Linked DNA regions of Homo sapiens: region 1 is reported to be linked to region 2. The links are microRNA targets in miRTarBase. Many come from high-throughput screens and were not tested one by one. Region 2 holds a microRNA gene; the other region holds the end of a gene's coding sequence.
Evidence for each region. The annotated mature microRNA hsa-miR-4462 reads UGACACGGAGGGUGGCUUGGGAA and lies in region 2 at 1,916-1,938, shown strand. An mRNA with a match to its seed (bases 2 to 7 or 8) in the 3' UTR can be bound and repressed. Matches are read on the target gene's strand: a 7mer-m8 pairs with bases 2 to 8, a 7mer-A1 pairs with bases 2 to 7 and ends in A, and an 8mer does both.

Region 1: miRTarBase lists OCRL as a target of hsa-miR-4462. Seed matches in the 3' UTR shown: 7mer-A1 at 2,994-3,000.

The regions. Positions count from the first base shown.
Region 1 is chrX:129,589,497-129,593,885 of GRCh38, forward strand. OCRL (OCRL inositol polyphosphate-5-phosphatase) reads left to right here. Exons shown (of 24, transcript NM_000276.4): 23 at 349-460; 24 at 650-3,060. The coding sequence ends at 774. Among named protein-coding and RNA genes, the nearest start is that of OCRL, 51 kb to the left of the region's middle.
Region 2 is chr6:37,552,915-37,557,303 of GRCh38, reverse strand. It overlaps MIR4462 (microRNA 4462), which reads left to right and starts at 1,882; the gene lies at 1,882-1,939. RefSeq lists enhancers at 1-185, 396-495, 606-655, 1,206-1,295, 2,922-3,422 and a silencer at 3,277-3,571.

The DNA.
Region 1 (4,389 bases), not on the chromosome of region 2:
AGAACAGAAAACCATTCAGCTTGGTAGGTGCCGTGGCTACATGCCTACGGAAATGGGAAAAGAACAGATGAACACTGACCTATTGTGAGGCAGGGTGTGCGTATGAATGTGTGATGACCACGTGGCCTGGTCATTGAGTGGACAGGGACCAAACAGCACGGCCACTCTTACTTTGAAGTTATAATTTGGAAGGTATTGTGTTGGCCATGAGGAGATAATAGAAGTTAGACAGATGAAATGGGTCCTGCAAGGGTTGGATTATAGACTACTATTACAGCAGCTGTAAGTTCCTCTTACTTTCATCTTCCACCTGTTTTTCTCACTGCCTGCCCCTATTTTTAAAAACAGGTGATCTCCCAGCTTCCGAGATGCCATAGAAATGTTTTCCGTTACTTGATGGCATTCCTTCGAGAACTCTTAAAATTCTCTGAATACAATAGCGTCAATGCCAACATGATCGGTAAGAGTGCTTCATGCAACACGGGGCGTTTGTTGAGAATACTCTTAGTGCATTGTATCCAGTATATACCTTACTGCATATGCAGGCACATGGCAGTCAATAGTCCTTGTCCCCAGGCCCTCCAGCCCTGAGGTTTTGCTTAGGTTATGTCTGACAGAAGTTTCCGCTTGTCTTTCTCTCGTCTTGTAGCTACTCTCTTCACTAGTCTTCTCCTGAGGCCTCCACCCAACCTTATGGCAAGACAGACTCCAAGTGACCGCCAGCGTGCTATTCAGTTCCTTCTGGGCTTTCTGCTTGGGAGCGAAGAAGACTAAGGCTTTTACTGTTCTCTGATATTCTAGAAGCAGACGATCTCGGGCTCCAAGTATTTCAGAATGATTTAAAAAGTCATGCCACAGGAAGGGTCTATTGCAGAATTTCAAGTTCTGTTTATAGTAAAAAGGAAGAGCGTTTCCTAATCCCTCCTTTACCATATCCTACACAGAAAAATACTTTTAGACTTATATTGCCAAGCCAAAGTTACCATATTTTGGTGTTTTTGTGTTTTCTCTTTATAAGGCAAAAAGATCTGTATTTACACTCCTTCACCTAGGGATGTGTTTGTTGCCCTCCTACCCAATTGTCATGATTGTCCTTAGTACCCTAGGCCTAGATTCTGAGATCTTCCCATTCTAGGCCTACAAGCACTACTTGCTGTAGCTGAGACTTGTCTAGAGTCCTTTGTTTTGCACTTTTGACCCACCCCTTCCTGGATCACTCCTTTGCACTCCACTCCCCTCGTTCTGTCACTTTGAACGAAGTCTGAGTGAGGCTAGTGACTCCTTGGGTGTCCTCAACAGTGAATTCACTGTCTGCGTGCAGTTATTACATGCATTTGTGCATTTCTACTACAATGGCATCTTTATGTCTCTGTAACATTGGCCTTTTCATGGCTCCACACTGGGTGGAACCATATTCTCTTAGATCACATTTAGTAGCATAACTGTAGGGACTATTAGAGATGGCATCTCATCGATGAGAGAGAATCACAATCAGAATGGAAGCACTTTGAGTATCTGAAGAGTGAGAGCATTCATGTTTGACAGGTCCTGCTTCCCACTATCCTTTTCCTGTTATTATTCAAATTTTACACAAGGACTAATCCTGGGTGTCTCTGAGACCCATCTCCTGCCTAGACATCCACCTCCAGAGCAACACTGGCCCCACAGTAAAAGAGGAAGTCTTGTACCTCAGGCAGGCCCATCTAGAGCTATTGCTCCTTCCCACAGCAAAGGTATTGTGGATGACCCTTAGAATCCATTCTCTGGTCTTCTGAAATACCAAGGGCAGATGTCACCTCCTTCCTCAGCAGGACTGACTCTGGGCTCTACAACCAGCTCCTTCACATAAAGGGTTTAGAGACTCCCCTTGGCTCCCAGTCACCATATCCAGTGTTGTGTAAAGAGACTGGCCAACAGGACCAACCAAGCACCTTACCTCTCCCATACAAGATGACCCTCTGAGCTTTTCATTTATTCAAGCTCTGTGGTACAGCCTTTTTTTAAAATAAATTAATCTATATTGGTTGACAAACAAGCCACCAACCACTGACTGCAAAACTGCCTGATGCAGTTGGGTTCCTCCTGGTTTTCTTTTGTTACAACCACCCTTGCCTGTTTACATTAATTGCAAGGAGCATAACGTACAGGCTGTATGTACAATCCTGGGCATTGACTCTGTGACATTTCTAGCATATCCAAGGCACCACCAGTGATTTCTCCTGTTTCTTGGTGGGGGTGGGGGGGAAGGTACGTATTCTGCAATATGGCTAAACCCTTTCCTGATTGAGAGTTAAAGCAATAGGAGTCAAGTTACTGGTGCCACAGATCTGGAGGTATGATAGGTCAGGGGCTAGGTGTTGAACTTAGTTAATGGAAGACTGAGAGCAGAACAGGTTTGTCATCTCCGCAAGGCCAGAAAGTGATCACAAAAAGAGGCAGATGATAGACACTGGGGTAGGGTCATACCACAGGGAAATACCTTTCCTGGGCTTGTTTTCTAGCATATCACTGACCTGGGATCTTTGGGTGATCAAGGGTGTGGTTAGTGGAGGCTCTGTGCTGCACGTATGCAGTATCCTATCTCTTTCTACATCAGATCAAAACACTAAGTTGGTGTACTGCCTCGACCTTTTTTCAGCTCATCCTGGAACATATACAGAGTTGAGAGTTTTAGACAATCTCTAGGTAGAGGAGACAAGATGTAGACCCAGACAGAAGAAATCTGCTTCCCTACCATGGCTATTCCAGCACCCCAACCTGTAATTGCCAAGTCCTCTAAGGTACTAATTTGTAGCTGCTCTGAAGTAAGGATTTCGGATTCAGCTGGTAGGGAAAGACTCTGCACCTGCTGTCTTAGGGAAGAAATGGTTCAAATCCATGTGGTGACATTGCATTAGTCTCCCTTTCACTGTTTTCTTATTCTGTAATTGTTTGTTATATTTCCCAAAAACGTCTTGATCACTAAGCAAAGCTGCTAGTGGGATTCTATATTTCGTGTCATCTTTTTTATTATAATTTATTGCAAATTTTTTTCTGAATAAATATATGTTGTGTGAAAAAGCAAAGTGTGATTTTGGTGAGGAAGCACTCAGAAGGGAGGGCTTATGTGTCACTGGGTTCCATTCGACTTGACTGCAGTCCCCATCAGCTGTGCCTGCACTGTCATCACCTGTCTTACAGGGAAATACCATTTATAAGAATTCTTAGTATATTCACCCTCAGAGATGAGAAGAAACCATGCGTTTTCAGAGGCTAATAAAGGTGTCCTGTACTTTCAGAGGCCAGCCAAGTACCCTTATTTTAACCCTAAGGATTCAGGCAACAAAACAACTCAATTAGAGGAAAGGATGTTGATTCTTAATGCATGTAAATGTCACACTAGGTCAGATCTGTGATCCCTCCGGCCCCAGAAACAAACCCTAAGATACACATCTGGGGAGAACCCAGCTACCCCTGCTCAGTAGTCTCAGTAGTTTAGACGCGCTTCCCCAAAGAGCTTGTTTTCACATAATCCTATTTTGCAGCTTTTGAAAACCAGTTTTGAACTTTTATGACTTCTTGGGGTGATCAAGTCCATAAATTTAGTACTTTTTTGTTGTTCTAATCTGAACTGCCTAACACGTTGGGAGGAAACCGCTGATTTGAGCATGGTGCCAATGCTTCCCTGCCAATCTCCATTATGAATTTGTGGATTCTGATTCCATTCCCTTTGAGACTGAAGAAGCCTCAGCTGGAGGTTTCTTCTCTACTAAGGCCCTCTTCCAATTCCCTCCAACTGTGAGCTTGACCCTGATGAATGTGCTGACTCAGTGTTGTCATAAACAACTTTCAAAGCCCCACCCAAAGCCTTGGCAGGAGAAGGTGTTTCTTTCTGAGAGTGATTTTCCCCCCAGCAGATGGAGACTGACACCAGAAGTTTTTACATAGTAGCAGGCAATGAGAATAGCAGGCAGGTGGTCAGTCTTTCCAGAGGTTAGAGAGGAAATGGCATCCCCAGCTGTGAGGCTTCTGTTATAGGAGACCCATTAGGACCTTTCTGATTGCAGGGCAAGTTGAAGAACTGGCTCTTGGTGTAGCCTCATAATGTAAAAGCCACACATTGCAACAGTGGCATCACTAAATGTTAGGGAGAGAACCTTAGTGGTGACCTAATCCAATCTCATTGTTTGGATAGGGAAAGTCTCAGAGGGGACAATGACTGACCTAAGGTTACTTAGGTTAGTGACACTGCATGGCATAGTGGCATTTGTTTTTTCAAGCAGTTCTACTCTGCTTGCCCATTAATTCCTTTGGTGGCATCTTATCAATTTCCGTGGCTGTAAATGTCTGTAATACCCCTGATTCCAAATGTTACGTCTCCACCTCATAGCTCTCTTCCGAGTTCCTGCC
Region 2 (4,389 bases):
CAGAGCGTCCTGTCAGCATCCACTGAGGTGGGGACTGCGCTTGGCACCTGGAAAGAAGGCCCCAGTCTGCCCTGAGCCTGATGGCCAAGATGGTCGCATCTGGCCCACCGTGGAGTCAGGGCAAGGGCCTAGGTCAGAGGGAACGGGACGCCCTCCCTCCAGATCATGAGGCCTGGACAGCCGGACGGGGATCAAGACAGTTGCCAGGGAGGGATGGAAAAAAGAAGAGGTAAAGCCACTGCTGTAAGAGGCTAGCCCCATCTCAGTGGCTCAGCCTGTGAAAGTTCATTTCCTGCTCAGTCACAGTCCAGCGCCAGCACTGCTGTCAGGGTGGCCTCCCCTGGCTCCCTCCCTCCTCTGGCTCTGCCCCCTTGAAGACCTCTGACTTCTCCTTGTGCAGCCGCCAGACAGGGAAAGACCAATTCTTCATCCTTCCATCTGAAAGCAGCACACCACGCCTTGCACAGAGTCCATAGGGGAGAACTAGAAATTCGGCCCCACATATACACAAAGGGTTCTGAAAAATGGGGTTCCTGGCTGGGCAGCTACTTCTCAGCCAGACACTCCACACCGAGGAAAGAGGAGCCTGGATTTGTAACGGACTGTGGGCCAGGTCTGCCTCCGGTACCAGCATCCACTGTATACCTCTTCTGGGCTGGGCTTCTCATCTTTGCAGCCACTGTTGAAAATGAAAGACAGCTATTTTTTATGTTTTATGTTTTTGGGGATAGAGTTTCGCTCTTGTCACCGAGGCTGGAGTGCAGTGGCACAGTCTCAGTTTACTGCAACCTCCGCCTCCCGGGTTCAAGCGATTCTCCTGCGTCAGCCTCCCGAGTAGCTGGGATTACAGGCACTCGCCACCACACCCAGCTAATTTTTGTATTGTTAGTAGAGACGGGGTTTCACCATGTTAGCCAGGATGGTCTCGATCTCTTGACCACGTGATCCACCCGCCTCGGCCTCCCTAAGTGCTGGGATTACAGGTGTGAGCCACCGCGCCCAGCCAGGGCTTTTCTTGATGTTAAAAGTTCTCGAGAAGAAGGAGACTTCCAGGACTTTCCAGGGTCCCATACTCATTTGAGAGTGCTGAGATTACAGGCGTGAGCCACCACGCCAGGCCTAGACCCATTTTACACGTGAGAAACGGAAGAAGCTCAGAGATGTCCAGACTCAGCCGGCGGTGGCACAGCTGGCTGTGAAGCTGGGTGCTCGCAGGCCAAGGCCACGTCACTTTCTCTTCCCAGCTCACCGGGTTGTTTCTCTAGAAAATGCCCGAGAGATGGAGACAGACAAAAAGGAGGAAGTAGGGGCGTGGTGAGGGAGAGAAAGAAAAGACAGGGGAGAGAGGACAAGCCAGAGAGAGGCACAAATGGAAAGAGAAAATCTCAGAGCCTCACAGTAGTGAAGCTTGAGATGAGAAAGAACGGTGACTCCGTCTCCCCACCCACCCCACCTTCTCCTGCAAAAATGACTTGTCTCCCAGGGAGGGCCACTGGGCATCCCCGTTCCACACCCCTGCTGGCTTCAGGGCCAACCCTAGGTCACCTCCCCTGAGCTCCCCCTGCTTGGTCTCACCTCTTTGTGGGAAGGTCTGGCTTTAAATGTGCCCCAGATACCCAAGTTCAAATCCAGCCTCTGCACTTACTACTGACAGACCTTGAGCGATTGAGGAGCTCAGTGAAGATGCGGTGGGTGAATGAAAGCACTTTGTAAACCCCAGCAAGAGATGGTTCTGGGTTGCCTGTTCTCAGGGGCGAGATGGGGAGCAGCTCAGGGAGCATGAAGGGGATGGCGGCGTGAAGCCCTGCTGGCTTCCTGCCCTAGACAGTGCCCCGAGGGAGGGACGGGAAGATATAAATAAGACACGTAAAGGCCTCTGTGCTTCCCAGCTGCCCTAAGTCAGGAGTGGCTTTCCTGACACGGAGGGTGGCTTGGGAAATGAAAAGTGAATGGGTTGCTAAAATGTTTTACTTCCCCGGTGTTGTTGGTGGGGCTTTAATGAGGAGCCATGCATCACTTGGCCCCCTCGCCCCGGCAGATGATAAAGGGCCACCGCTCCCCGCGGGCCTCAGAACAACCCACCACTGCCTGGCTTGTAAATTGTTATGGCCCAATGAAGAGCTTGCCCTTAAATGTCACTCACCCAGGAATTAAGGTGAAGACAGGCACAGGGACTTGCCAGTGGCACGGCCCAAGGTGGGGGCTAGCAGGAGTGGGCCCTGCAGGATGGGGTGAGGGGCAGACTCCTCGGGAAGGGCAGTTGGATACCAGGTCTGGGGTTAATGAAAAGTGCCCCCTGCCCCCTAAGTGATCATTATCTCCAGTAATTATCCTTGCTCCTGGGGGGAAGCAGGGAGGGGCGCACTGAAGAGCTGTCATTAGAATGGACTGGCTAAAGAATCCAGACCTGGCGCACTGGCCTGGGGTCCTCAGCCTCTCTCCCCCTCTCTCTTCCCCATTCCATCTCCCCGCCACCCCACCTGTCTTCCTCCCCACCTCCACCTCTCTCCCCCCTCCCTGCCAATCTTTCTCTCTCAACCCAGTTGCCTGCATGGTTCACAGGTTTCTCTTTGCCCTGTGGACCCCAGGGTAGATTGAGAAGGAATCTTAATGAGTCTGACTCAGGCCGGCATCACGCAGGCTGCCCCGCTGTCTAGCTTCATTTTCTAACTTTGGGGGCACGGAAAGGTCGGCTTCCACCTCTTCCCTGGAGGCCCTTCTCTAGAAGAAGGTAGAACTTCAGGTGCCTTCCAGGAAGAAAGTGAGCTTTAGGTGCTTCCCAAGCGTGACCCTCTTCCCTCTCCTGTAACCTTTTAGCATTGTGGAATAAATCTCACGTCCAGAAAAGGGCATGAAACAAATGTTTCATTAACACATTATTTCAAAGCAGAGTAGCCACCACCTCAGTCACAGACCAGAACCTCACCAGCACCCAGCAGCTTGCGGATCCCTTCCCGTTGACCTTCTCTTCCCCAGAGGTCCCAGGCAGTCGCTTCCTACCTTTCTCTGTGTGTTCCCTCAACAACGTGCTTCAGTTTTCCCTGTTTCTGAACTTTATATAAATAGAGTCCTGCAGGATGCGGTGGCTCATGCCTGTAATCCCAACACTTTAGGGGGCCAAGGTGGGTGGATCACGAGGTCAGGAGTTTGAGACCAGCCTCACCAACACAGTGAAACCCCGTCTCTACTAAAAATACAAAAATTAGCCAGGTGTGGTGGCACGCACCTGTAGTCCCAGCTACTCGTGAGGCTGAGGCAGGAGAATCGCTTGAACCCAGGAGGCGGAGGTTGCAGTGAGCCGAGATTGCACCATTGAACTCCAGCCTGGGAGACAGAGCGAAAAAAAAAAAAAAAAATAGAGTCCCATGTACGCATTCTTTCGTATCTGGCTTCTTTCAGCCAGCCTGGAGGTGTTTGTGTGACTCATCTCTGTGGCTCGGGTAGTCACAGTTCATTCATTCTCATTGTCCTAGAGAGCTTGTCACTGTCTGCATGCTACAGCCCTGCCACCCATCTCCCCAGCCCACATGTCACCAGCTGCAGCATCTTCAAGTTTTGGGGCTCCTGTGCAGGAGGGATGTGACTGATCCTTCCTGCCAGGAAATTCCCCTTAGGTCTAACCTCTTTCTCCCTCACCCACACTTTGCTGGTTTGCTGCCTCTGATGAAGTCAGGGGAGAGGAAAGATACAGCAAAAATAACACATCAATAGCATTTGCAAGGCATTTTTCAAGTATGAAGCACTTCTTAATACACTAATTAAGTGAGATGGTCATTATCATCCTGTTCTAAGCATTTTATATTTTTAACTCATTTAACCCTCAGAACCACCTTTGAAGTAGGTGCTATTATTATCCCTATTTTATAGACATGGGAACTGAGAAGTTAAAGAATTTGTCCAAGGTAGGGTTGCCAGATAAAATACAGAATGAGCAGTTACATTTGAATTTCAGATAAGCAAGGAATTTTTTAAAGCATAAATATATCCCAAACACTGCATATTAAATTCAAATGGGCATCTTATATTTTTGACTTCCTGAATCTAGCAACCCTAGTCCAAGGTCACAGTGCAAGTAACAGTAAAGCCAAGATTCAGACCCCAGCTCCTACCCCACAGCCTTGTGCCCTTAGCCACTGCTCTCCTGTTACAGTGGGACCACACTAAGGCCCTGGCGTCCAGGGAGAAAAGCAGATGCATTTGAAACTGTTGAGTAAATCAAACAAGCAAGGCTAGGAAACAGATTTGCTATGGAGGCTAAAGGAGAGGGAGGAATTAAGAAAGGAGTTCAGGCCGGGCACAGTGGCTCACGCCTGTAATCCCAGCACTTTGGGAGGCCGAGGCAGGTGGATCACCCGAAGTTGGGAGTTTGAGACCACCCTGACCAACATG